Linked DNA regions of Homo sapiens: region 2 is linked to region 1. The links come from fine-mapping of genetic effects on gene expression. Tissue or cell type: blood mononuclear cells. Region 1 holds a variant in brackets; the other region holds the start of a gene. All regions are shown on one strand. Distances are from middle to middle.

Region 1 (2,681 bases):
ATTGGGGCACATATGAGGCCAAAATGCAGTCATAGGTTGCTGGGAGCATGGGTCCCTCAGTGAGTCACAGGCAGAGTTACTGGCAGAGGTGGGAGGTTCCACACAGAGAGAGAGGTGGACCTGGCAGTAGTGGCACAGGCTGGCCCCAGCTGGCCCCTCTCTCCACCTCCCAACGGCCATCCGTCCTTCATCGCCCGGCAGCTCACTGGGTGGAGAACCAAGTAGTACGAGGGAGGAGGGACTGAGTGCAGGTGTGGACATTGGTGCAGTGGGGAGAATGGGAGAGCCCAGAGGGAACCTTCCTTCCTGTTGCCTAAGTAGCCCCTGTGGGGGGCCCTGCTGCCTCCAGATTCGGTTCTGTCTGTATATCCTACTGTAACAGCCAGAGAAATCTAACATCGCTGACTCCATCTTGCTTCTAACCTCATAAGCCAACTGCCTTTGCTCATCCCTAGACACAGGCCAAGCTAACCACGAAAAGCATTTTGATTACAGTTTAACGCTAGTACTAATGACCACCTCTCTTTTGAAACAGACTCCTGAGGAGATGAGGAAGTGTGCACTCAAGTAACAGTGCTGTCTGAAAGACTTAGAGCAACAAGGTGGATCTGACAAGCAGTTGACCATGAACAAAGAAGTTTTGCAACCTCCTTGGACCCCTGATGACAGCCAGATGTCTGTGGCCTCCAGTCACCTCCAGACCTTCACCCCCTGCATGGTCCCTCTTCCTCTAATATGAAAGAAGCCTAAAAAAATCTATCAATCTAAGTTGGTTCTGGCTGGGCACGGTGGCTCATGCCCGTAATCCCATCACTTTGGGAGGCTTAGGCAGGAGGATCACGAGGTCAGGAGTTCGAGACCAGCCTGGCCAAGAGACCAGCCTGTGGTGAAACCCCATCTCTACTAAAAATACAAAAATTAGCTGGGAGTGGTGGCGGGCACCTGTAATCCCAGCTACTCGGGAGGCCTAGGCAGGAGAATTGCTTGAACCCAGGAGGTGGAGGTTGCAGTGAGCTGAAGATTGTGCCATTGCACTTCAGCCTGGACAACAGAGTGAGACTCCGACTCACA[A/C]AAAAAAAAAAAAATGTTCTTTAGGACATTGGTCCTCCATCTTCTCAGTTGGAAGCTCCCAGAAATAAAGTCATCTTCCTTACCCCAACACCTTCTCTCAACTTATTGGCTGTCATGTTGTGAGTGGTAGAGTTTGGACTTGGCTATACTGCTAATGATAGTGGCTACCACATGTGCCATTATCATTAATGTGAGGTGTCACATTGGGACCATAATGCCCACTGTATCCATTAAAATTAAGTGAGGTGTCAGCTCACTTAATTTTTTTTTGAGATGGTGTCTCACTATGTAGCCCAAGCTGGAGTGCAGTAGTGCAGTCTTGGCTCACTGCAACCTCCGCCTCCGGGACTCAAGTGATTCTTGGTGCCTCAGCCTCCCAAGTAGCTGGGACTACAGATGCCTGTCACCTCGTCCGGCTAATTTTTTGTGTTTTAGTAGAGACAGGATTTCACCATGTTGCCCAGGGTGGTCTCGAACTTCTGAGCTCAGGCGATCTGCCCACCTCTGCCTCCCAAAGTGCTGGGATTACAGGTGTGAGCCACCGCACCCAGTCAGCTCACTTAATTTTCATGGAATACAGTGGGCATTATGATCCCAATTTTACAAGTGAGAAAACTGAGAAGGAGAGAGGTCCCCAAAGTTGCCTAAAGTCACACAGTAAGTGGTAGAGTCAGGATTCCAGCTGAAGTCTGCTTCCAAATCCCACCTTCTAACCGCTGCCACTAGACTGCTGTGTCTGCTGGGGTGTTAGGTCACAGGAGAAAAGAGATAATGGCTTTGTGACCCGGGAGCTCCGCCTTCACCTCCTCCTGCCATCCTCAGCATGAGCCAGCTGCATGAGGGGTGCTGTGTGCTGGGCTGGAGGATGGAGCCATGTGCCACTCCCTCCGAGGCACGCTGTGAAGGTGCAAGTGGTGTGTTCTGAGAGGTTGTGCACTACTTGGTTCTCCACCCAGCGAGCTGACAGGCCGGCGATGAAGGAAGGATGGCCGTTGGGAGGGGGAACTGGTGGAGAGAGGGGCCAGCTGGGGAGGAGGGTGGAGGAGTAGCTTGAGTCAGACTGCGGGGGAGGTACTGGCCGTCCTTGTCACTGTTCTTTAGAAAATGCCTCCGTCAGTGCCTGAGGTTCAAGGAGTGTAGGCCGTTTTCTTTCTGAGTTCCGAGCAAATCGAGCTGGGGGACTCCGGGGTATGCTGCCCTATCCCAGGAGTCTCAGTCTTAGGTAGTTTGGCGATCTTCTCCTGTAAATAATCAATAGTCCCTGAACAGCACTTGTAAATTTGAGCGTAGAAAACTGGGTGAGATGTTTTTATGGTGAAAGAAGCTTCTCCTTGAAGTCCCTGCAGAAGCCCCAGGGGCAGAGTGACATGGACAGGTTTTGGGGATGTGGGCTGAATGATGCCATTATGGGGCTGCTGGAATCTGGGGTGCCAGAGCTGTTGGTTGGAAAGCCCCCGGGTATGAGGGCAATGTGCCACTTTGACGACAGCCTCTGCCTCCAACTTTTTTGGGCCTGAACAGTGCGGAGGATGAAAACTTCTCACCCAGCTTTCTACATTCAAGTTTACAAGTGCTGCTCAGGACCCACTGATTATTTCCAGGGGAAGATC
Region 2 (2,681 bases), 62 kb before region 1:
AAACATCCGCAGGGTAGAGGGAACCGAAATGAAACCGACCCTGCAGTAATTCGCTGTCCCCTCGTGAAGGCCTGCAGAAAAAGGCAGCTCTGACTCCCCTAAATTGATGCCCGATGTTGGGCAGAGCGCCCCAGCCCTGCCCGGGTCGCTCCACACGACCATCTTTCCACTCCTCCGGTCGGCGCTTCCTTCCCCGCTGCGGGTCAGGGTGGCCCTTGCACGGCGGCACAAGTCCAGAGGGGGCTGAGGAATACCCTTTAGCCAATCCCAGTACTTAGTACCCAGGCGGGCATGAGCTCCACCGAGGCGCGCGCCCGCCCCCGCGCGTTCCCTGGCTCGCGGCTGGGACTGTTACCTCCGCGGTCCTCACCTTCAGAGGAATGAGAGTCCCGCAGCCCTCTCCTGGTCATAACAGGAGACGGCTGTAGCGGAGGCTGCTCTGAGTGCTGCTGCTGAAGGCGGGTAGTCCTTCGCGTCTTCATTTCCTCGGTTTCCTGGGGTCGCGGCTGCCTCCGCTGCCTAGACCGAAGGTAGTACGCGCTTTCTCTCACTTCCTCTTTCGCAGAATCGGACCGGAACTCTTCTAGCCGGGTTCGTTTTCCCACCGGGGACCTTTCTTTGGCCACCAGGGGCTCGAAGTCGCCGTACACTTCTGGCGGCTCGTCCGAGAACCTCACTTCCCGCCGGCCCTGGCGCGACGGAGGAGTTCTGTACGCAGGCGCATCGCTGCTGCCGCCATTTTGAGGGGCGAGCCGGCCCCTTCCCTCTCGGATGGGGGCCCTGGGGGTGACGTACACACCCCATCCTTCCCGCACCGCCTCTGCCCGCCGCCCGTCGCCCGCCATAGTTGTTGACGTAGCTTTAGTCGATCGCGAAGATGGCTTTATGGACCCTAGGTTCTCCTGCCGGTGGTGGCGATGGCTTCTCGGGGGTGTTGGGCGGTGGCCGCTGTGGTCAGGGAGGCAGTTGCGAGTCGCTGGGGCCGCCGCCTGCGTCGTCGCTGCTGTGTAGCAAACCTGCCTCTGGGCCCATGGTGTGTCTTGAGGGCTGTGAGAGAGGCAGTGCCTGAGCTGGGTCAGCTGCTGTGGATCGCTCCCGCCTCCTGGCTGGAGGCACCAAAGAGGAGGAGAAGGGGGAGGAGGACGTCTCTGCCATCGCCCTTAAGTAAAGGAGGGGTGGGGGCGATAGAAGGATGGCAGGGCAACTTGCCTGTCCTAAGTCTAGCCGCTCGTGGCAAGTGTTGACTGCGTGTAGGAGACTCCCGTCCTATCTCCCAGTACCAAGTCTCGGGGAAAAGGAGTGCGACGAGGGTGGAGAAGACCCAAGTTTCGCTTCTCGGCCCCAGGCTGTTGCGCAGTTTCCCTGGAATCTTTTTGATCGACTGCTACGTTGACCATGTCCTTCCCAGTGTCCTTAGCAGGAGTGATGGCCAGAGAGAGAACTTTTGCACATGCCATGTTTTCGTGGCAAAAATTTTAGTTTCAAGTACCTTATGAGGGCGGTTACCTAGTTTTGAATTTTGTCACTTGTTGAGGGTGTACAAAATCCTATCTAGAGTCATACTCGTTGGATGTATTTTCTTTTCCGAAATGTACCCATAGGACACATAACCTTATTCCTGGTCTTTAATATTTCTCGGTTTTATACCAAGCAGCAGTGTTCGGAAGACCATGTTAGTGCTACATTGTGCACAGTGAGAAATGAACAAGTTTTTTAATTAAAGACAGCACTGTAATTTTAAGTTGTGATCCATTATTTTTACTTTTATTCTGGATGTGACGTGATACTCTACATTTGATTTAGAATGCTTTATGGACTTTATGGAATAAGAAAGCATGGTAAAATCTATTTGTTTCACCTCCTTATACAAATGTTTACAGATGTGGCTAATCTGCAAATACCTAACCAAATTTAGACACATTCAGAGAAGGTCGATTAAGTTCGTGTAAAGTCTGAATAATTATTGAAAGAAAGCTTAAATTGCCTTCAAATATACAACTGCTTGTAGGGCTTTGTATGATTGGAGTGAATAGATTTAAAAAATTGTAATTTGGATACCAGTTACAATGAGCGATTCTGAAAAGTTTGAAGGTGTTTGTTTATTCTTCCAAGTAATCACCTTAAAATGTTTTTGAGCAACTCATTTGTTGCTCAAACTTGGCACAAATTTCAACTACTTAAGTCGTAATGTGTACTATGTTTTTATTTTATTTTTATTTTTATTTTATTTTTTTTGAGACGGAGTCTTGCTCTGTCACCCAGGCTGGAGTCCAGTGGCGCGATCTCGGCTCACTGCAACCTCTGCCTCCCGGATTCACGCCATTCTCCTGCTTCAGCCTCCCCAGCAGCTGGGACTACAGGCGCATGCCGCCACGCCCGGCTAATTTTTTTGTATTTTTAGTAGAGACAGGGTTTCACCGTGTTAGCCAGGATGGTCTCGATCTCCTGACCTCGTGATCCGCCTCTCGGCCTCCCAAAGTGCTGGGATTACAGGCGTGAGCCACCCTGCCCGACTGTGTACTATGTTTTTACTAATATTGTCCATAAATTTGGCCACAGGCAGGAGGAATTACAGTTTTAGAGTGAGATAAGGTTTGGCCTGTTAGGAGCTTAGTTTACTGTAGCTTTATGTACAATATAGCTTTTAAAAACTGCAGTAACAAAAGAGAGACTTCTTTCTT

The links. PIP is the estimated chance that this variant, and not a neighbour inherited with it, causes the effect.
Region 2: TOR1AIP1 starts here. The variant in region 1 is fine-mapped to the expression of TOR1AIP1 in blood mononuclear cells (TOPMed, PIP 0.95).

Annotation. Positions count from the first base shown.
Region 1 is chr1:179,818,304-179,820,984 of GRCh38, reverse strand. LINC02818 (long intergenic non-protein coding RNA 2818) reads left to right here. Exons shown (of 3, transcript XR_001738312.3): 3 at 536-1,159. LOC105371634 (a long non-coding RNA gene) reads left to right here and starts at 1,567. Exons shown (of 5, transcript XR_007066756.1): 1 at 1,567-1,999. RefSeq lists an enhancer at 1,480-2,465. The variant A/C (reference allele first, on the strand shown) is at 1,072.
Region 2 is chr1:179,880,667-179,883,347 of GRCh38, reverse strand. It overlaps TOR1AIP1 (torsin 1A interacting protein 1), which reads right to left and starts at 1,063. Exons shown (of 10, transcript NM_015602.4): 1 at 371-1,063. The coding sequence starts at 845. It overlaps LOC139427322, which reads right to left and starts at 1,032. Exons shown (of 1, transcript NM_001436163.1): 1 at 955-1,032. The coding sequence starts at 1,032. The coding sequence ends at 955. RefSeq lists enhancers at 97-196, 500-794, 357-1,116, 621-1,158, 1,137-1,246 and 1 more.